3 linked regions of the Homo sapiens genome follow. The protein of the gene in region 3 interacts with the protein of the main gene of each other region in a pairwise test. Each region holds a gene or a part of one and is shown on either strand. Other genes may lie near its edges. The genes, in order: CTDSP2, RFC5 and N4BP3.

Region 1 (7,662 bases), on a different chromosome or scaffold from region 3:
CTGAGTCAAGAGGTTAAGTAATTAAGCGGTGGTGTTGGAGTGATGAGCATGCCTGCACCTTGCAGGCAGTGAGGTTTCCCACGCTGTTGCACAGAGGAGCTATCCCCGCTACCACTAGCTCCTCCCTCCCTCTGCAGCCCTCAGCATCTGGCACCCTCACAGCAGTTCAGTCATTAGCCACTGGGTCTCTCTCCCTCACCCCACCCCATCTCAGCCCCGATACTCTGCCCTGGGAAGCCAGGACAGGACCATACCATACAAGCCTTGTGACAGGAGGGCACCAAGCTCTGGAATCTTGGCATTGACATCCACCTACTCATGAACAATACAAAGCAGAACTGAGACTGCAGGGACAATCAGAAAAACCAAGAAAATCAATGTGTTCCTTTTTTTAAAAAAAAAGTTTTTAAGAAAAAAAGTAATATTTCAGTGACATCAGAGATAATCATGAAAGGTCGGTAGCCCAACCTTGTACTTATTTTCTGTGGGGAAAAGGGCAATTAGGCATCTCCCATGGAGGAAGCTCCTCCAGCTGTTTCCCTTTCGCCAGCCTTGGCTCGGGACACCCAGTCCGACTTCAGTAGCCACAGCAGGAGACAGACAGGGACAGCCACTCCATGTTTGCCCCACATAGCCCCCCATTCTAGCATTTGGGGGTAATGGGGACACTGCTGTTGTTTCCAAATTGCCTCTTACCAACCATGCAGTCAGAGAGGCCAGAGGAAAGGGGATACAGCAGGTAGGGAACCAAGTGAGAGTCAGTGGGCTTTCTCCTGGGAGAGTTGTTAGACCTGGCTTCAGCTATCTCCCTTGAACCACCTAAAATGAACCACCTAAAGTTACACAACCAGCAACTGGCCCAGGCCCCGTAGGCAGGATGTTATTTTTGAGGCTATTTTAGGCAGAAGTTAGAAGGTCCACTTGCCTCCCACCACCCTCACCACTTCAACTATAGGAAAGAGGCCCACCATGACCCTACAGAGCTTTCCAGAGTGCAGACCTTTTCCTAGTCATCTGTGGACAGAGCAGTGAGAAGCCTGTGGCATCAAGAGAGCAAGCCCCACCTATGTTTGGGGTTCCAGGCTCCAGTAGCGCCTCCACTGCTTTTGTAGTCTCTGGAAGCACAGGGGTCCTCACCAGGCCTCTTGGGAACTGCCCCTCCTCCCTCATTTACCCCTCCTTGCTGGGTTCTATTTGTACCCTTGTGCCTCTGGCCTTGGAAGGGGTTCTATCTGTTATACATAAATTTTTCTTTGACCTCAGAGCAAGAAATGCTTGAGGACCATCTCCTCTGCATCTTTCAGGGACAGCCAGAGCCCTGAGACACACATGAAGGCATCTACTGCATCCAGGAGTGAAAGTAGCATTGTTTTAACACTGGGTCACAATCCGGTGGTGGTTTGTGAATTCAATTTAAAAGGTCATGGCTGGCACCTTAAAACCATCAAATAGAACACAATACGTGCAATAGAAAATATGAGTGTGCACACATAGCCAGGGTAAGTATTGTCCATGAAACTTTTGTATCATTTATCTCACAACATAAAATGTGTTTCTTGCTGTAGGTCACTGAACAAATCCCTGGACAAAAGAACACTGGTTCAGACATAAAGTCAAGGCCAGGCATGGTGGCTCACACTGGTAATCCTAGCACTTTGGGAGGCCAAGAGGCAGGTGGATCACCTGAGGTCAGGAGTTTGAGACCAGCCTGGCCAACATGGTGAAACCCCATCTCTACTAAAAATAGAAAAATTAGCTGGGCATGGTGGCAGGTGCCTGTAATCCCAGCTACTCAAGAGGCTGAGGCAGGAGAATTGCTTGAACCGGGGAGGCGGAGGTTGCAGTGAGCCAAGATCACGCCACTTCACTCCAGCTGGGGCAACAGAGTGAGACTTCATCTCAACATGTACAAGTCACCTGTTCTGTGTTAGGCACTCTGCTAGGCACAAGAAATCCAGTAAAGAATAAGACATCCCCTAGTCTCAATCCACCTTCTGGTTGGGAAGCCAATAAGCACACAGTTGCAAGATAGGGTGCCAAGTGGTCTGAGAGAGTATGTATGAGGCTATAAAACCCTGACATGAGGGCGGGCATCTGGGAGGGCTTCCAGGAGAGGTGATGCAATTGGAGTTCACAGCAGGAAAAGAGAGCGATAGGTTCTAGTGTCTCCTCCATCCTATAGATAAGAAGGGAACTATGTTAAAGTGTCAAGGGTTCTAGTCTTAAAGTCCAAAGACATCCTGTCTCCTCTTCTTAACAAGCTGTGAGGTCTCAGGTGAGTCAATTAACCTTCCCAGACCAATTCCTCATTTACAAAACAGGCATCTATAAAAATGGGCATAATATCTGCTCTATCAACCTCAAAGAAGTGAGAGATCAAATGAAATAGATAATATATGTGAAAGTACTTTGTAAATTACAAAAGGGGAGGTATTGTCTCTATGGATGAGGAAATGGAAGCATAACGAAGTGAAGTGTCCTGCCCTACAGTGCTATGGGTAGCAGGCCCCTCTAAATCCTCAGTCCTCAGCTCCTGCCTGCATTCCTCCCACTGCAACTAATCTACCTTAGAAGAGGGCAGGGGAAGGGTCTAAAAAGGCCCCCATAGCAACCTGACTATTGAAGATTTACCTTAAAGATCCTATTGTTTTAATGATGGGAGGTGGGTATGTCAGAACTCCTCCGTTTCCCTTTCTGTTAATGAATTAAGATCTACCCAAATTCAGTGTTTAAAGTTACATAAGCATCATTCAGATCTGTAACAGCCACTTTCATTTTGGAAAAACAGCATTTCCATTAAAATGATGTTATATAAAAAGGTTTTGTATACGTGCGTAGGAACAGCAGAAACAGGCACACATGATCACTGTATGGCACACAGGCATATGCAGATCATGACCTCACCTGTCCTCATGAGGAAGGGACCATAGGAAGCAGGTGTCTGATAGTACCTGGCAAGCTTAGCTGTGACCTAGTTGTCCTCTAATCATCAGTAAGACCTGATGCATGTTGGGCAATGGGAACTGCAGCAGGAAGGAAGCCCCTTCCTTGGCAGGGTGAGTGCCACTGAATCACAGAATATTGGGGTTGGATTTAGCTCAGAAGTCACCCAGTGCAATCTCACTCTACACCACTCTTGCCGGCCTTGACTTGAACAGCTACCATTGTCCCAAGGCAGCCCATGTCACCTGTGGACAGATGTAGATCACTGGAAAAGACCTGATATTGAGCTGAAACCAGCCTTTCTGGAGCTACCACCGCTGGGGAACAAAAGCACCCACAACCTTGAGCAGAGACTCCAGGAGCTGTAGCCAGCGGAGCGTGCCCCGAGGCCTAAAGAGCAAGTGGGGAAGGCAGCCTGAGTCCACAAAGCTGAAGCTCCTCCGAGAGACCTCCATCCATCTAAAGGAAGCTGGGACTGTGGGGGCAAAAAGAGAGGGGTAGGATGAGGGAGGTAGGGAGGAGGGGCGGAGTCGGGGCCGCCTAAATGGGAGTAAGTCGGTGGGTGTGAGGAAAGCCCAGCACCTCAGGTCTCATTTTCAGTGTTTTGGGGGACACAGTCCCGAGGTCAGTTCCAGCTCTTATACTCTGGAGTCCTAGGTCCGCCCACACGCACACACCCCTTTCGGGATTCGAAGGTTGTACTTTTTTTTTTTTTTTTTTGAGACAGAGTCTCGCTCTGTCGCCCAGGCTGGAGTGCAGTGGCGCGATCTCGGCTACCTGCAATCTCCGCCTCCCGGGTTCAAGCAAGTCTTTGCCTCAGCCTCCCGAGTAGCTGGGATTACAGGCGCCCGCCACCACGCCCGGCTAATTTTTTTGTATTTTTAGTAGAGACGGGGTTTCACCATCTTGGCCAGGCTGGTCTTGAACTCCTGACCTCGTGATCCACCCACCTCGGCCTTCCAAAGTGCTGGGATTACAGGCGTGAGCCACCGCGCCTGGCCTCGACGGTTGTACTTTTATGTGACTTGGTACGTCCTTGATTCTAGGGCTAAGCAGGGGGGTAAGGTAACTTCCGATCCGCCCCATCCCCTGCTGGAGTCAGGTTAGGCTTAGCGGCTTGTCTTGGTCACCCCTGAAGGGGGAAACCTTTCCACCTTCCCCGAGTGCGCCCTCCGAGAAAAGAACACCCCAGCACAGAGCACCAGAACGTGAGCTTCGGAGCGGCCTTTTAAATAGTTGGGAAGGGGGTGTGGCCGAGGAGACTGGGAGGCCGCAGTCTGGCGCGGGGGGAGTGGCCCGGGGGCGTGGCCGTGGCGCCTGGAATGTTGTTAGGTCCTCTCACCGCATAGTAAGGAGGGGCCACGCCCCTTTTCTCCAAGAGAGCCAATCGGAGCACCGGAACGGTTTCAAGTCTCCCCCGCCAGCCTGCCCGCCCGCCACCCCACCCCCCTTGAGGATTCGCTTTTTCCGTAACAAAATAGCAAAGCTCCCGACTGTCCGCAGCCCCGGCCGCTCACAGATGGAGGGTCCCAGGGCCTAGGACGCAGCCCCCAGCGGGAAGCTCCAGCTGGCCGTGAAGAGGCCGAGTCGAGAGCCGGGAGGCGCGCGGGGGTGGGCGCTGCAGCCGCGGGTTGTTTATCTGGAGTACGGAGGGGAGGGGGGAGCCTGGAAACCGCCCCGTGTCCCATTTCCTCCTCTTGTTTTCGCTCCGGATTCTCCATGTTGGACCCAAACTGAGGAGCCCGGAGCTGCCGCTGGGGGATCGGGGCCGGGGGCACCCGGGGGAGCCGCTGCCCGGGCCGCCCGCCCTTTGTACAGGCCGCCTCCCTTCCCGGTCCGGGGAGGAAACGAGAGGGGGGATGTGAACAGCTGTGGAAGTCGGAGTCTCGGGAGCCGGAGCGGGCCCCCGCCCAGGCCCCCCAGCCCAGCCCAGCCCGCGCGCCCGCCCGTCCTCCCGCCCAGCCAGCCCGGGCCCGCGGGATTGTTAGATGGAACACGGCTCCATCATCACCCAGGCGCGGAGGGAAGACGCCCTGGTGCTCACCAAGCAAGGTAGGGGCAGCAACTTCCCAAAACTTTGCGTCGCCCCCGGGCGCGGAGGGGGCTAGCACAGCCCCGAACCCAGGTCTCGGCCCTTGACCTCCAGGGCTTAGAGCCAGCGATCCCGACTGGACCCCTCCGGTCCATCCGCCCCCGCATCCCGGCTGGCACTCAGACCTCCGTGGGGGTTGCACGGGGATCCCGGCGCCCGAGCGGAAAGGGCGTCTTCGGCGCAGCTGTCACCCTGTCCCGCAACCCCTCCCCCTCGGGGCTGAGAGACGGAGGGGTAGCTCTCGAAGCACTGGGCCACTCCGCGTCCACCGCCTCCGGAGTTGGGGGTGGGGTCGTCACTTTCCTTCACCGCCGCGCGCGGCTGCCCCGGGATCGCGGGGAGGGGTTAGGAAGGTGACAGAGGGAGCCCCAGGTGGAACGGAACCGAGACTGGAGTCCAGCACTTGCAGGCCCCCCCAAGCCCGAGGTCGTTCGGGCAGCTAGCTGGCGGTGACGGCGTCCGGCGGGACTTGGGACCAAGTTCACCTCTTGGAGGCGGGGGCGGTCGCGGTGGGGGAGGGGCCCGGGCCCTGGCGCACCAGACGTGGCGGGTTCCCGGCTCAGCGCAGGCCCCGGGACCTTGGCGGCGTCGGGCTCCCTCCCGGCTGCCTCTGACCAGTTTCGCTGAGCAAACAAGCCCGACCCTGAGGCCCGGCCAGAGCCCCTCCCTGCCCGGTGCGCTCCCCCGGGGCCGGCGCTGCACACACAGAGCCGCGTTTGTTTAGCCCGGGAGCGGTGTCCCTGGTTACATAATTCGCCGGATGGCATCAGACCCGGCGTGGTTCTGAATCGCGCAGCGAAAAAGTGCGAGTTCTCTGTGGGCAGCGGCTGGCGGCCCCCGCCTTCCAGAGCGTCAGGTGGAGGCGCGAGGGGGCCCGCAGGCCCTCGCGGGGGTGAGGCGGAGGCCGAGGCCTCTCCCGGGGCGGGAGAAAGCTGGGGCCCGAGGGTGGAACCTCTTAGTTTGGTCACAGTGGGAGACTCGAAACTCTTTCCCCCTCCGCCACGTTCTTCTTTTGGCCTTGAGGAATGTGTCCAAAATAGCGGCAGATTTTCCGCGGGGTGTAAGGACGAGTGTGGCGTTTCTCTAGAGAGCCCCCCGACCGGGGCCACCTGGCCCCGGAGGCTGGGGCGGGAGCTGGCTCCTGGGGCCGAAGCCGGAGCGCTCCCTCCCCTTCTCCACCGAGCGCGAAGGGCCGGTGCTGCAGTTGAACACACTGAGGCCTAGAGCCTGGTGGGCGGCCAGCTTCGGGGCCTCGTGCGCCCCACGTCTCCCCGTTTGGCAACATTAGTCAGCAGGTCACTAATTCCTGGGGTTCACGTTCCAAGGAGCTCCCCCAACTTCCCTAGGGGCAAATCCGCTGAGTTGGTGGTGTCAGCCTCTCCCAAATTCCCTCAGTGGAACGAGAGGAGCTGGGAGGGGGGAAGGGTGGGGGGAGGGAGGCAGTGTGTTCCTCTTGCATCACTGGCCGGACTTTAAATAAGCCTGCCCTGAGAAGGGATGGCCTTGCCTACTCAGATCCCAACCCCCGAGAAGGCTCCGGCCTCCCTGACCTCGGTGTTGCCATGATTTCTGCTCTCCTGGCTGCATCACTAACCAGGCTGTGACCCAGGCAGCAACTTCACCGCCTCTGCTGGCTGCTCAACTGTGCTGATGGCTGAAAAAGGAAGGGAGCCTGCGTGTGTTTATAGCTCACTCCTGACTCTTCCCACTCCCTTTTTATCCCAGGAAAAGACCCTAAGAGCTAGCCAGAGGGGAAGAAACCTAGATGTGGGGGGATTCAAGAGGGGGCAGTGGTGATGAGTAGGGGGAGGAGCCCTGTGCTTCCCCACTAGGTCTTCCTCTCTTGCAGGGACTCTCTTGCAGGGAGTGTGCCTTGGGCATCGTGGGGCCACGCGAGGAGTAAGGGAAAGCTGGACTGCGCCGGGGCATCTTAGAAATCAGAGCTGGAAGTTTCATCCACCAGGGTGAATGGCAGGCTACAGAATAGATAACAGCAGAAAGCAAAGCAACTGGCTTGACAGTGTTAAGTTGCTGGTGTTGGATTTTCTTGGAGTTAATGTTTCTCCTTTTTTGTGTGTGTGGTTTAAGCCAGCAGCCACTGGGTCTCTCCCTCCCCATGTAATTTTTTATTTTAATTGAGATGGAGTCTTACTCTGTTGCCCAGGCTAGAGTGCAGTGGCGCAATCTCAGCTCACTGCAACCTCCGCCTCCTAAATTCAAGCAATTCTCCTGCCTCAGCCTCCCAAGTAGCTGGGATTACAGGCGCGCGCCATCACGCTTGGCTAATTTTTTTGTATTTTTTAGTAGAGACAGGGGTTTCGCCAGTTGCCCAGGCTGGTCTCGACTCCTGAGGTGATCAGCCCCCTTCGGCCTCCCAAAGTGCTGGGATTACAGGCGTGAGCCACCGCGCCCGGCCCCTCCCCATGTAATTTGATTGCATTCCAGAGAAGACAGACTTTCTTCCTGGGCTGCTTAGGCACCCAGCAACCACTAAACCAACTTTCTGAGTCCCACATCATTTACAAACAAAACCTACGTCTTCAAAACAAAACAAAAAACAAAAGCTGGGGGACTGGGGAAGCAGATGTTTTAATTGGCTCCTTTTGGAGTTCCTTCTTCTCCCCACT
Region 2 (7,101 bases), on a different chromosome or scaffold from region 3:
ACACTTGCTTCTCTACGGTCCCCCAGGGACAGGCAAGACATCTACCATCCTAGCCTGTGCGAAACAGCTATATAAAGACAAAGAATTTGGCTCCATGGTCTTGGAGGTAAATAAGATTGTTCTTACTCTACAAATAACTTAAGAGACTCCAGTCTCTTAATTTCAGTTCTGCTGGTTTTATTTTACTTTAAAAGTAAGTTGCCCCACGGACAGTTAGGAAAGAAGTAAATTTGAATATTTTAATTCCCTTTTTCCTATAATGGTCATTTTGGTCTGGATTAGCGTTGGTCAGCTAGAGGGCAGTTGTAGGGTTTGGCACCTTTTTCTTTGCTCTTGCCAACTTCTCCCCAAACCTTACTTTATGGTGACTTGGTTGCTGCCTGTCTGCCATGGCCCCTCTAGATCAATTCTCCACGTTTCTCCACCATATTCCTGCCTGGAAGGCTGAGCCCTACTGACTATAAGCTCACTTACCCTCTGGCTCCTGGTTGGGTTTGGCCAATAGGGGCCTTGGCAGGGGTGGGGGAAGGAAGTGAGTGATGCCTGGGCCTTCCCTGGGGGCTGACACAGGCTGGCAGCATGGCCCACCTGTAGGGTACATCTCACAGGTGGTACCTTTCCTGCAGCCCTCTCCAGGTGCCTACAGCCACTCCCTTCACTAAGCCCTTCAGGCTCAAGGGTGACAGGTATTGCATAGCCCCATGGTTTTCCTATATCACACCTTTAAAAAGATCTTGTTTAATTCTCTTCAAATTGCTGCATTTGAGTATGCCATCTGTATATTGCTGGGACCTTGACTAATATACTTAGATTCAAAAATCTGAGTATTGTCTATTGCAAGAAAAGTTTAACTTACTTTTTAGACGCAGGTCTCAGAACTTTGCTGCTACTAATGTCCTTATTTCAGTTTATTAAGAACTTGGTAACTTAGGATTGTGGTAGCTGAAATTTGTATCATTCTGCTCATACCAGAGGTGCTGTTCAGTGTAACCATACCAATTAATTATTTCTCCAATTTATGTCAGTCATTGTCCTCAAAGGGTGGGGGTAATATAGCCATCTTTATTAATTTAGTGAATTTTGTGTAAAACTGATTTTTTATTTTATGATGATCTCTTAGCCATCATTAGACATAGAGAGCTAGCCTGCTGAGCTGGACTGATGAGGAAATACACTAACACCAAGAACTCACAGATAGCACAGCAACATGGTTTTTGTTTTGTCTTCTGTCTTCCACATTTAGCTGAATGCTTCAGATGACCGAGGAATAGACATCATTCGAGGACCGATCCTGAGCTTTGCTAGCACAAGGACAATATTTAAGTAAGAATTATTTGTGTAATTTCGCTCCCTTGATTTTGATTAGTAAGATGATATGGGTTAATTTTTTAATCCTCTCCTTAGCCAGTTTATATGGGTTGAAAAAAAAAGTGACTTTGTCCAAAGCAACCATGGAAAAGAGATAAACGAGAGGGATGGTAGTAAGAAGCGTTATAATGCAACTGTTAAAATAAAATGTTATCTACGCTTGTATTAGCAAGTTTGTTTTTTTTTTCTTTTTTTTTTGGAGACAGGGTCGCCCTGTATCGTACAGGCTGGAGTGCAGTAGCATGATCTCGGCTCACTGCAACCTCCACCTCCTGGGTTCAAGCGATCTTCCAGCCTCAGCCTCCTAAGTAGCTGGGACTACAGTCGTGAGCCATCACGCCCAACTAATTTTTGTATTTTTTAGTAGACATGGGGTTTTGCCATGTTGCCTAGGCTGGTCTCGAACTCCTGAGCTCAAGCAATCTGCCCGCCGCAGCCTCCCAAACTGCTGGGATTACATACGTGAGCCCAGCCTGCATTACCAAGTTCTTTAGGGAGCATTAACTTCATTTTTAGTTCCTGAGAACTGGCTAGATTACCCTAAGACTGGATGAGCTAGTTTGAATTTAAAAATAAATTGAGATCAGGAAGGACAACTAGGATGGTGGCTAAAAAAAAAAAAAGAAAGAAAGAAAAAGGGTGAGGGCCGGGCGCAGTGGCTCACACCTGTAATCCTAGGACTTTGGGAGGCCTAGGCAGGTGGATCACCTGAGATCAAGGGTTCAAGACCAGCATGGCCAACATAGTGAAACCTCGTCTCTACTAAAAATACAAAAATTATCTGGGCATGGTGGTGGGCGCCTGTAATCCCAGCCACTCAGGAGGCTGAGGCAGGAGAATCGCTTGAACCCAGGAGGCAGAGGTTGCAGCGAGCCAAGATCGCGGCACTGCACTCCAGCCTGGGCAACAGAGCAAAAACTTAGTCTCAAAAAAAGCAAAAGGGTGAGGGACTCAGGCATGAGTGAGGGAGACGGGAAAAGCAGTAGCATGGTAGGGTGCCATGTGGAGGAAAGTGAAGATGCCAGAGGACACAGCGCACAGAAGTAGAGAAGTCTCCTCCATTCCCACCAAGGGTTGAAGGAGTGATGCGGCATTTCCTCTCTGAGTGACCAAAGATGTCTGCCTTGGCCAAAGTTCTAGAAGAAATTGTCTTTCTGAGACAGGGCCCGATGGCACAATGGGAAGATATAGGTTTGAGCCCAGATGTTGAGATGAGATTGAAGAAATCTTTAGACAGCACCATTTGTTTTTCTAGGAAAGGCTTTAAGCTAGTGATCTTGGATGAAGCAGACGCCATGACTCAGGACGCCCAGAATGCCTTGAGAAGAGGTAAGCAGAGGCACTGTGGAGCGTTTGGGCTGGTGTGCACACTGGAAGGAGAATTAGGAACTTTGTGTTTGTTGCTGTTGTCATTGTTTTTTTAGGCGGGGGGGAGTTTTTTTTTCTTTTTTTGAGTCAGAGTCTTGCTCTGTCACCCAGGTTGGAGTGCAGTGGCGCAATCTTGGCTCACTGCAGCCTCTGCCTCCTGGGTTCAAGCGATTCTCTGACCTCAGCCTCTTGAGTAGCTGGGATTACAGGCATGCACCACCACACCCGGCTGATTTTTATATTTTTAGTAGAGATGGGGTTTCACCATGTTGGCCAGGCTGGTCTCGACCTCCTGACCTTGGGTGATCCGCCCGCCTCGGCTTCCCAAAGTGCTGGGATTACAGGAGAATTAGGAACTTTAAGCTTCCCAAAGTGCTGGGATTACAGGAGAATTAGGATGTGAGATATGGCTTGGCTTGTTTTCAGTTTTCATCTTCTGGCCCAGAGAAATCTCTATGCCTTTCTCTGTGTCTCCCATCTAATGACACAGGCTAGATACCTCTGTAGCGGGACTTCCCCTTCAGCAGCCTAGGGACTAAGCCCTGCGGGGACTTTTAAGTCTGGCCAGTCACTGGTGTTCAACCTCCTTTGACACTGGGTTCAATTTCAGAGTTGGGAATTCATATCTTTCCGTGGGATGGGGTGTGGAAAATCTTTCATCCTTAAGCTATCAGATAGTCCTTCTGCTAATAGTACCCTCTCCTTTCTACTAATGGTACCCTTTGAACCACAATGGCTAGGAAAAGCATATCTGAAGTTGAGGTGCTCAGAGAGCTGATATTACTTCACTGCTTGCCAAGTGAATGATTTGGCAGCGGGAGGGACAGCACCCTGCGATTTGTCTGTCTTCAGGGGCCTAGCGCAGTTCTTTTCTCTTAAAGGACACTTGTCATCTCTCATTAAGATTCCAAGTGAATCAGCTTTGAGAGAAGAACGATCTTTAGGAGTTTGTGGCGAGGGAGTAGATGGCAGCACATGTTAAGAGAAGGATGGGGGAAGGGGGAGGAGGAGGAGGGGGGAGGAGGGGAGGAAGAGGAGGGGGTGAGGAGGAGGAGGGGGAGGAGAAGGCGGAGGAGGAGGGTAGGGGGAGGTGGAGGAGGAGAGGTGGGGGAGGAGGAGGAGGAGGAGGACAGCGAGAATATCTTCTGGTCCTAGAAGCTTGGCAGCCTTTCTTCGGCATCTTGTTCTGCCGAGTGACTGTCATTCTGGGCAGATCCCCATGTGAGAACATTGGGTACCTACAGAATGGAACCGGTGTCATAAGCAACTCTTTGTTCGGGTTATTGCTCCCTTGAGTGCTCTAAGGCCTCCAGACAGTCTCCATGGAAAAGTCTGCAAAAAGCCGCCCTCCCTGCCCATAGAAGGTGAAGTGTCATCAACCTGCCAAATATAATTTTATGTAAAAGGACAAGAAGTCTCATAGTCTTAATGGGATTACATGGCAAAAGTGCCAGAATCATGGCAAATGGTAAAAAGGAAGCATTTTGTAAAATCCCACGGAGGCATGTTTACCAGTTTGTGAAAGAGGGGTGGCTAGGCAGGGCGCAGTGGCTCACACCTGTAATCCCAGTACTTTGGGAGGCTGAGGCAGGCATATCACCTGAGGTCAGGAGTTCGAGACCAGCCTGGCTAACCGATGAAACCCCATCTCTACTAAAAATACAAAAATTGGCCTGGCACAGTGGCTCATGCCTGTAATCCCAAAGGCCAAGGCGGGCGAATCATGAGGTCAGGAGATCGAGACCATCCTGGCTAACATGGTGAAACCCCGTCTCTACTAAAAATATAAAAAATTAGCCGGGCGTGGTGGCACGTGTCTGTAGTCCCAGCTACTCAGGAGGCTGAGGCAGGAGAATCGCTTTAATCCGGGAGGCAGAGGTTGCAGGGAGCCAAGATCGTGCCATTGCACTCCAGCCTGGGCAACAGAGCGAGACTCTGTTTCAAAAAAGAAAAAAGAGGAGTGGCTAATCTCTGATCTGAACAGGCCAGCACTGCCCTGTCTTGTCATAGGCTGCAGCCTCACTTGTTTACATTCTTTCTTTTTTGAGACAGAGTCTCACTCTGTTGCCCACGCTGGAGTGCAGTGGAATGATTTTGGGTCACTGCAACCTCCACCTCCCGGATTCAAGCAATTCTCCTGCCTCAGCCTCCCAAGTAGCTGGGATTACAGGCATGTGCCACCACACCTGGCTAAATTTTGTATTTTCAGTAGAGGTTTTGCCATGTTGGCCAAACCTCCTGACCTCAAGTGATCCTCCCGCCTCAGCCTCCCAAAGTGCTGGGATTACAGACGTGAGCCACTAAGCCACTACGCCCGGCCAACATCCTCACTTGTTTGCAGTATTGAATCTTTTCCTATACCCTTGTGACCACAGAAAAATTCAAGTTTTCTGGGCTCTCTGAAAAATCAGAATGGACTTTGACATGAGGTGGTTTTATTTTCTCTTACTAGTAATTGAGAAATTCACAGAAAATACCAGATTCTGCCTCATCTGTAACTATCTGTCAAAGATCATCCCTGCCTTGCAGTCCCGCTGCACGAGGTTTCGGTTCGGTCCCCTGACTCCTGAACTCATGGTTCCCCGCCTGGAACATGTCGTGGAAGAAGAGAAGTGAGTATTTTGCGGGCCTTTGGGGATGGAGTGTAGTAGAAACAGGCTTGTGGGATCACTGGCTGGTTCGTATGTAGAGGAGAGGAATGTTGGAAAACGACTTTGCAGAGTGCCTAGCACAGGGGAGGCACTGGGGACCGTCCACTGCTATCATTTTCTCTGCTGTCTCAAGGCCATTCCTCATAAAAGTCATTTGGTACTTCATTTTTCTTGATTCCATCCTCCTCCCCTGGAAGCTGTCCCAATTTCCTCCTACTCTTCTTTGTCATTGGAAACTGCAGGCTGCTGAGTCCCTTCTGCAAAGATGCTTCCAGCCTTTTTAGACTAGAAGGGAAGGTTCTAAGACATCACATTCTGTGTAGTCAGATGCCAAGCAAGTAGCCGACCTGAGCAGCTGCTTGTTGTGAAGGAGGAGTTTCGGCTGTGTGATCATGGCTTGTGCCAGGCCTCTGTCCTCCCCAGAGAGCAGAATTCAAGACGACTGGCTCCATGGGAGAATGCTTGTTCCTAAATTCAGGCTGTTCTCGATTTTGGTTGGCTGTGACTACTAATGTGAAGCCCAGGTCCCTAAAAACCAGAGTGAATTCTAGATCATATAGATCAGGAGATTATTAACTCTGTTCCTCTCCTTCCTTCATCCCTTTAAAGCCTTAATCATTCCAGGCCATCTTGTTCCTTTGGTGAATGCTGGTGCTCTCAGGGGGCCTCATAAATCCCTTTTGCTTATTTCTTTCAGAGTTGATATAAGTGAAGATGGAATGAAAGCACTAGTCACTCTTTCCAGTGGAGACATGCGTAGGGCTCTGAACATTTTGCAGGTATGGTCTCAAGCAAATCCTTTTTTTTTTTTTTTTTTGAGACAGAGTCTTGCTCTGTCGCTCAGGCTGGAGTGCAGCAACACAATCTCAGCTCACTGCAACCTCCGCCTCCTGGGTTCAAGCGAATCTCCTGCCTCCTGAGCAGCTGGGATTACAGGTGCCCGCCACCACGCCCTACTAATTTTTGTATTTTTAGTAGAGATGGGGTTTCGCCATGTTGGTTAGGCTGGTCTCGAACTCCTGACCTCAAATGATCCATCTGCCTCAGCTTCCTAAAGTGCTGGGATTACAGGCATGAGCCACCATGCCCAGCCTGGTCCCAGCAAATCCTGAGTCATTGTTTTGTAATAGTTTTTGAAGAAAGACCTAAGCAAAGGCATGATCAATCTGTAAATTTTGAAATCTACAGCTGGTAAGACCTTGGTCTCATAACCTGCAGGATTCCCCCTCCTCACTTTGTATTTTGATTAATTGAAAAAATCACTTGTTGCAGGCCAGGTATGGTGGCTCACGCCTGTAATCCCAGCACTTAGGGATGCCGAGGGAGGTGGATTGCCTGAGCCCACGAGCTGGAGACCAGCCTGGGCAACATAGTGAGACTCTGTCTCCACTAAAAAATCATGAGCCAGGTGTGGCGGTGCACACCTGTAGTCCCATCTACTCAGGAGGCTGAGGCAGGAGGGTGACTTGAGCCTAGGAGGTCGAGGCTACAGTGAGCCATGATCATGCCACTGCACTTCAGCCTGAGCAACAGAGCAAGACCCTGTCTCAAAAAACAAAGAGAGAGCAAAAGAAAATGTTTTAAAAACAAAAGGAATCATTTGTTGCAAAGAAGGCAAAGGGAGGGAAGGATTTGGCACTGGAATAGCCAACAGGCTGTGGCATCCTCTGATGAGGTGACTCTTCCGGTATTGAATATGTGGGTTCCCACTGCC
Region 3 (7,450 bases):
GGAGGCTGGTTTCACTTCCCCTGGCCTGGTGCCCTGAGTGCCCCACCCCTTGGCATCTGAGCAGTGTGGCTCCCATGCCAACTCTACAGGAATGTCATGTCTGGGGGCAAGTGGCCCCTTGCAGGGGCATCTGCTGTGCAGGTCCAGGAAGGTAAATAAAGTTCACTGAATACAAGATCCCCCCATCCCAGCAGGAGTCCAGCTTGGCCTCTCCCATACTGTCCAGGCAGATGTTGGAGGGAAGAAAAGAGGCCTGGCCTCCTGTTGGTTTCTGCCTCCTCACCTCTGCCCAGCCCACTTTCTTCTCTCAAAGGCCTCAGCAAGGCCAATGGGAGGCCAAGGTCAAGGAGACGGGGTGAGAACAAGAGGCAGCCCGCATGGACAGGACAGGAGCGCAGTGCAGTTGAGCACCTTCTTTTTCTTTTTTTTTTTTTTTGAGATGGAGTCTCGCTCTGTCAGCCAGGCTGCTGGAGTGCCGTGGTGCAATCTTGGGACACTGCAACCTCCACCTCCCAGGTTCAAGTGATTCTCCTGCCTCAGCCTCCTGAGTAGTTGGAACTATGGGAGTGCGCCATCACATCTGCCTAATTTTTGTATTTTTAGTACAGACAGATTTTCACCATGTTGGCCAGGCTGGTTCTCGAACTCTTGATCTCAGGTGATCCACCTGCCTTGGCCTCCCAAAGTGCTGGGATTACAGGCATGAGCCACTGTGTCCTGCCTTTATTTATTTATTTATTTATTTATTTTTGAGACGGAGTCTCGCTCTGTCGCCCAGTCTGGAGTGCAGTGGCACCATCTCGGCTCACTGCAAGCTCCACCTCCTGGGTTCATGCCATTCTCCTGCCTCAGCCTCCCGCGTAGCTGGGACTACAGGCGCCCACGACCACACTCTGCTAATTTTTTGTATTTTTAATAAAGATAGGGTTTCACCGTGTTAGCCAGGATGGTCTCGATCTCCTGACCTCGTGATCCTCCTGCCTCGGCCTCCCAAAGTGCTGGGATCACAGGTGTGAGCCACCGTGCCCGGCCTTTTTTTTTTTAAAGACAGGGTCTTGCTCTGTCACCTAGGCTGGAGTGCAGTGTTCGATCATAGCTCACTGCAGCCTCTGATTCCTAGGCTCAAGGGATCCTTTTGCCTCAGCCTCTCGAGTAGCTGGGACTATAGGCACCACTGGCTTGGCTAATTTTTTATTTTTTTATAGAGATGGGGTCTTGCTATGTCGCCCAGGGAACTCCTGGGCTTAAGCAATGCTCTCACCTCGGCCTCCTAATGCGTTGGCATTACAGGCGTGAGCCACTGCACCCAACCCAGAATCTGAGTTTTCATCAGAACTTAGCTGTGACCTCTCTCTCTCTTCCTCATGCCATTTCTTGCAAGTGGATTCTTATAAGAACCTTCATTCAAACCCTCTCATAAACATCTCTATCACTGTCTCTCCCACTCAGTTGACAGAATGAACACCTTCTCGGCAGCTTCCAGCTTCCAGGTCCTCCTTGGCCCCATTTCTTTCCCTAGAGACCCAGGGGACCCGACCTCCCTGCCTGCCTGTGCCACCTCACAGGCCCCACGTCCAGCTGCGTGCACAAGCTCCTCTCTCTCAATGCTTCGGAGGCTCCCAGCGCCCACTTCAAGAGGCTTCTCTGGGTCTGCTCTCGGTTGCCACCTTCGTCCCTTCCCACCACTAACCTTTCCCACCCAGGGCTTGGACCTTGCTAGCAAGCTGAACGTGCCCTGCCTTCTCTAGCCCTGCTATCTGCTCTGCTGGGAACACTCCTCAGTGGAAATGCTTCCAGGACCATCTCAAAAACCATTGCTCCAGTGAGGCCTTTCCTTGGGTCCCCCAAACAGCCAAACAGGTTCTTGCTCTGAAACTTTATCTGTCCCAGTGAGTAACCCTACCAGACTGGCTCCTCAAGGGCTGAGACCCACAGCAGCTATTAATGAGTTTTCTTAGACAAGTATTCTGAAGTCTGGCAGTTCTATTAGAAATTCTGGCCGGGCGTGGTGGCTCACGCCTGTAATCCCAGCACTTTGGGAGGCCGAGGCAGGTGGATCACCTGAGGTCGGGAGTTCAAGACCAGCCTGACCAACCCCGTCTCTACTAAAAATACAAAATTAGCCGGGCATGGTGGCACACACCTGTGCCAACCAGCTACTCGGGAGGCTGAGACAGAAGACTCGCTTGAACCTGGGAGGGGGAGGTTGCAGTGAGCTGAGATCACGCCATTGCACTTCAGCCTAGGCAACAAGGGTGAAACTCCATCTCAAAAAAAAAAAAAAGTTGCCGGGCGCAGTGGCTTATGCCTGTAATCCTAGCACTTTGGGAGGCCAAGGGGGGGTGGATCACGAGGTCAGGGGATCGAGATCATCCTGGCTAACATGGTGAAACCCCATCTCCACTAAAAATACAAAAAATTAGCCGAGTGTGGTGGTGGGCACCCGTAGTCCCAGCTATTTGGGATGCTGAGGCAGGAGAATGGCGTGAACCCGGGAAGCGGAGCTTGCAGCGAGCTGAGATCGCACCACTGCACTCCAGCCTGGGCGACAGAGCAAGACTCCATCTCAAAAAAAAAGTTCTTTCAGCCAGGCATGGTGGCTCACGCCTGTACTCCCAGCACACTGAGAGGCTGAGGCAGGCAAATCATTTGCCTTAATTGATTTGCCCACCTCGTCTTCCCAAAGTGCTGGGATTACAGGCGTGAGCCGCCATGCCTGGCCAGAAGTTCTTCCTAGAGGTTCTATGCTGTCCTAGCAAGAATTGGTAAGAACAGCATAGAACACAAGGGGTTGCAAATTTGTGGGCCGTAGACCAAATCTGTTCCACAAGTGACAAGATGTTTTTTAATTGAGGTAAAATGTGCATACCATAAAATTAGCCGTTTTAAAGCAAACAATTCAATGACATTTGTATATTCATAACGTTGTGCAACCACCACCTCTGTCAGGCTCCAAAACATTTTCCTCATCCCAGAAGGAAACCCTATGCTTGTTAGGCAATCACTCTGCCTTTCTCTCTCCCCACAGCCTCTGGCTCTAATCTGCTTTCTGTTTGTCTGGATTTACTTATTATAAATGGCATCATTAACACATGTGGGCTTTGTGTCTGGTTTCTTTCACTTGCCATGTTTTGGAGGTTTATCCATGTTGTAGCAGGTATCATCAGTGTTTCATTCCTCTTTTTCTTTTCTTTTCTTTCTTTTTTTTTTTGAGACAGGCTTACGCCATCATCCAGGCTGGAGTGTAGTGGCACAATCTCCGTTCATTGCAACTCTGCCTCCTGGGTTCAAGCAATTCTCCTACCTTAGCCTCCCGAGTAGCTGGGATTACAGGCTCGCTCCACCATGCCTGGCTAATGTTTGGTGTTTTTGGTAGAGATAGAATTTCGCCATGTTGGCCAGGCTGGTCTCAAACTCCTGACCTCAAGTGAGCCGCCTGCCTCGGCCTCCCAAAATGCTAGGATTACAGGGGTGAGCCACCACATCAGGTCTTTTTTTTTTTAAGATAGAGATGGAGTTTTGTGAGTTGCCCAGGCTGTTCCTGAACTCCTGGCCTCCAAAAGTGCTGGGAGAGTTCAGACATGAGTCATCACATGGCGTTCATTTCTTTTTTATGGCTGAATAATATTCCACTGAATGGATCTACCATTGTTTGCTTACACCCTCATCAATTGTTAGTTTGGGCTGTTTCCACCTTTTGGCTCTTTGACTATTGTGACTAGTACTGCCAAGAACATTACTTGTTTGAGGACTATAATTGCCGGATCATATGGTAACTCTATGCTTAACTTTTGAATTAGAAACGGTGTTTTAATTTTTCGAATATGACTCCTTTACGTGTCTGTGTCTGTTTCCATGTCTTCCTACTGTCTTAGTAGGAAGCTCACGACTCATTTGCGTAATTTTTCTGGCCCCTGAAGGCACCTGATTTTGCTGCCCCTAGAATACTTTGGAGGCAAAAAGAAAATAACTCTGTGCCCAATTCAGCCAGAGTCGTGGGGTAAAATCTTTTCACTTCTCAAAGTACTACTGTGGTTCATCCCCAAAGGGGGGAAATCAGGTTTTCCGGAGAGGAGGCGGCTACAATTAGGGAGGTGAGGGACCTCACGCGCCTCTTCCTTAGAGGAGGCGGGCGAGGCGAACGGCGGAGGAGGAGAAGCGGGGGCGCTGTGCGCTCTCTGGGGCGTGGGCCGCGCTCGGGGCTGCCCACCCCTCGGGAACGAGCCGGGGCGCTCAAGGAGGCAGCGACGCGAGGCGCAGCCGGTCCAGGTTTCGCCCGCCACCGCCGTGCGGCGCCTCTGCGGGTCAGGGCCGGGGGCGCGGTCGGGGCCGGGCGGGGCCCAGGTTGGCTCGCGGGTAGGCGGCCCCGCCCCCCACATCCGGGGGCCGGGGCCGGGCTGTGGGCTTGCCGCGCGCCGGTGAGTCAGGCCGGGTTTTCCCTCCGCCTTTGGGGCAGGCGATCGAGCGCCGCGGAGCGCGTCCCTCCCTCGCCAATCCGGCTCCGGCGCCGGCGCCCGCCCGCGTTTTCCCGGCGCCTGCCGCTCCGCCGCTCCGACCCGGCACGCAGTCCCGGCCCGAGCCGACGCCTTGCAGGAGGGTTCAAATCCGCGCGGGGGAGCTGCGACGCGCAAGGGCTGCGGAGCCGCGGGCCGGCGAGCGCGTCGCCACCATGGTAAGTGGGGCGCGCGAGGGGCTGGGGACCCGGGCTGGACTCGGGGGGTGGGGAGGGGTGGGGCGGGTCGCCAAGGTCTTGTTTTCGGGCGTCCTTGGCAAAGCTGCTGTCCCGCTGGCCGAGGCTCCCGTCTGAGAGATGGGCGGGGGTGGCAAGGTGCGGCGTGCGCCCAGGTGTCCCCTGCTCCCGGTCACCGAGGCACCGGATCGGGGACCGACCCCGATGCTCCGCTGGAGGGGCAGGCGGCAGGCTACCTTGCTCTCCCCAACCCCTGCAAACGCGCTTTCCAGGGAGCAGCGCGCGGGACCCCTGCGCCACGGCTGGGTGGGGCAGGCGTCCTTGGCGCCGGCGTCTGACCTCGGCCTCCGCCCCCCGGCCCAGCCGCTCCCGGCAGGCCTCAGGGAGGGGCCAGGAGGAGACGCGCCTCCCACCCCGCCCCCCAGGTAGCTCCGGGACCTCCCGCAGCTTTGGGGAACCCTCGCCTTCACCCCTGCTTTCCTGACACAAATTCCGTGGGGATGCAACCTCGTTTGCCCCTCTGACTTCCCCATGAGATCTCTCGCTTCCTCCCACACCTCCTTTATCCCCCAACCCCCTGCCGGTCCACCAGGCTGCAGCTGCGGGTCTGCGGGTAGGGGACATTCCTAGGTCTTGACCGCCAGAGCACCCGGTCCAGTCCCGGCCACAGCCTTTGGCCCAAGTGAGGGCTGGCCTGGGGACAAGCCGAAATCAGGGCCCTGGCTGTATCCAGAAAGAGAACTGAGACCCGTTGCCTCCCACTGGGCCACCCCCCGACCCCAACCACATAGGAACAGATTGGGCCTGGCTGTCCTCGGGAGGGAGCGGACGCAGGAGGCCATCCTGGGCGCGGTTATCAGCCTCCTCCCAGGGCCCTCCCAGGCAGGGCTTCTCTACCGGCTGGCAGCGTGTGGTGTGCATGTGCCAGACTGTGAATGAATGCGGCCAGCCTGCCTCTGCCACCGCCTCTAGAGCTAGCATAGCGACTCGGAGTCCCCATGAGGCAGGTTTCCTCTATTTCTTCCTGACCTGGGGGGCAGCAGGAGGGATTCCAGGCCTGGTGGACCGCAGTCTAGGGCAGCCTGGTTGCAAGTGTCCTTGGGAGAAACAGGCATGGAGGGCTGGGCAGACATATATGCAATACATACACAGCAGTGTGTGCCCATGGAGGGGAACCCGTGACCCCTGGCTTAGGACAACCTGCTGAGGTAGAAAGGACCTTGCCCAGGGAGTTGAGATTGCTTCTCACTGTGGGATCTTGGATAACTCACCTCGCCTTCCGAGGCCTCAGTTTCCCGATCTGTAAAATGGCGTGAGGGTAATTACTGTCCTGTTTGCCCCCACGAGGCTATTGTGGAGATGAAATGAGATAATGAAATAGAAGGGCTGAGAAAAAACTGTAGACTGCGGTGCAGCCGTGAAGCACTATATGGTGATACTAAGCACCACTTCCGCAGGCTTTAGCCCCTGTCTCTGCCTCAAGTGTCTGTCACAGAGGGGATGGGGTGGGCCAGCCTCTCCCAGCCCCTCTCTGGGCCCCCCTTGCCTACTACCCCCCCCTTTTGGAGCTGGGACATTCCAGTCCCATTCCTTAGGGGCAGCTGCAGACACGCCCCTTAGCAGAGCTGATCCCCCAGCAGGTGGTGGGACCTTTCCCTGGGGCCAGGGCTCAGGAGGGGCTGACTGTAGCCAGGGCAGGCAGCACTCCTGCCCATGTGGGGACTGGAATGTCCCACCCCAGAGGAGATGCAAGGTGGGATCCGAGAGGACTTCTAATCCTGGAGCCTGTGTGCTTTCTCCCCTGCGGCTGAACGTGACCTTAGGCGTGTTACTTCACTTTCTGAACCTCAGTTTCCTCTTGTGAAGTGGGGGATGACAGAACTCATCTCCTGTGTGTCTTGTGAGGATGTGATAGTGCCCTTTGGCGTGACCCAAAAGGGCACCAACAGGCTCTGGGACGCCCCCCTCAAAGAAAGCGCGTCCTCTCCTTCTTTGCTTCCTGGCCAGGGCAGCTGTGTCTTCCATCTCCACCAAGGATTGGTCCGAAAGCAATTCCTCTCCGTGTTCAGAGATTCCAGTGCTGCCTGCTAATCTTGGGGACTGGAGAGGGGTGAGGGGACTGGTGGCGGGGAGCAGGAGTGAAGAGGCCTTACTGGGGCTAGCCAGGACCTGTGGAGAATGTGGCTTGAATGTCCCAGCCCAAATCTAGCCAGCTGTGTGGCTGGGGGTTTGCCGCTCCCAGCTCAGGGAAGCCCAGGCACTTGGCTTGTCCCCTACCCTTCTCTCCACGACCCGTGCAGGGTCCCCGGCTTTTTGCTCTGATGTTCCAGTGAGGCTGCAAGGCACTTGCTGTCCTCCCTCCCTCCTCCCCCACCAAATCCCCTCCGCCTGCACAGCTGCCCTGCCCAGCTGCCCTGCCCGGAGCAGGCAATCCCTGGGCTTCCAAGCAACAGGAAGGAAGGAATGTATGTGTTGGGGGAGGGGGTGGAGGTAGGATGGACCCCTTTAGGAAAAGAGACTGTCCCCACTCTGTGACATACGCAGGGAGGAGTGTCCTGAAAGCTGGGGGCCCCCGCCCTGCTGGGGGAGCTGATAATCCAGTCAGTCAGCCAGGAGGGGCACAGTGGGGACGGTGGGGGGCCTAAGGAGAGACAAAGGGAAGGGGCTGTCTGCTGCTCCTTCACTAGCCTGGGGGCTGGGAAGGACACTAGGTCATCATGCCACTGGGCTGCTCCTGCTTTGTCAGTGTGTCCTGTGGGT

The links.
Region 1: the proteins of N4BP3 (region 3) and CTDSP2 interact in binary tests that used the Homo sapiens proteins (3 or more experiments, as listed by UniProt).
Region 2: the proteins of N4BP3 (region 3) and RFC5 interact in binary tests that used the Homo sapiens proteins (3 or more experiments, as listed by UniProt).

The regions. Positions count from the first base shown.
Region 1 is NC_000012.12:57,843,705-57,851,366, reverse strand, and holds the start of CTDSP2 (carboxy-terminal domain RNA polymerase II polypeptide A small phosphatase 2), read left to right. Parts: upstream 1-4,637; 5' UTR 4,638-4,931; coding exon 4,932-4,995; intron 4,996-7,605; exon of another isoform or gene 7,606-7,662. UniProt on the Homo sapiens protein: Preferentially catalyzes the dephosphorylation of 'Ser-5' within the tandem 7 residue repeats in the C-terminal domain (CTD) of the largest RNA polymerase II subunit POLR2A.
Region 2 is NC_000012.12:118,019,663-118,026,763, forward strand, and holds part of RFC5 (replication factor C subunit 5), read left to right. Parts: coding exon 1-106; intron 107-1,243; coding exon 1,244-1,323; intron 1,324-2,623; coding exon 2,624-2,697; intron 2,698-5,188; coding exon 5,189-5,348; exon of another isoform or gene 5,349-5,352; intron 5,353-6,084; coding exon 6,085-6,166; intron 6,167-7,101. UniProt on the Homo sapiens protein: Subunit of the replication factor C (RFC) complex which acts during elongation of primed DNA templates by DNA polymerases delta and epsilon, and is necessary for ATP-dependent loading of proliferating cell nuclear antigen (PCNA) onto primed DNA.
Region 3 is NC_000005.10:178,109,100-178,116,549, forward strand, and holds the start of N4BP3 (NEDD4-binding protein 3), read left to right. Parts: upstream 1-4,432; 5' UTR 4,433-4,672; intron 4,673-5,666; exon of another isoform or gene 5,667-7,450.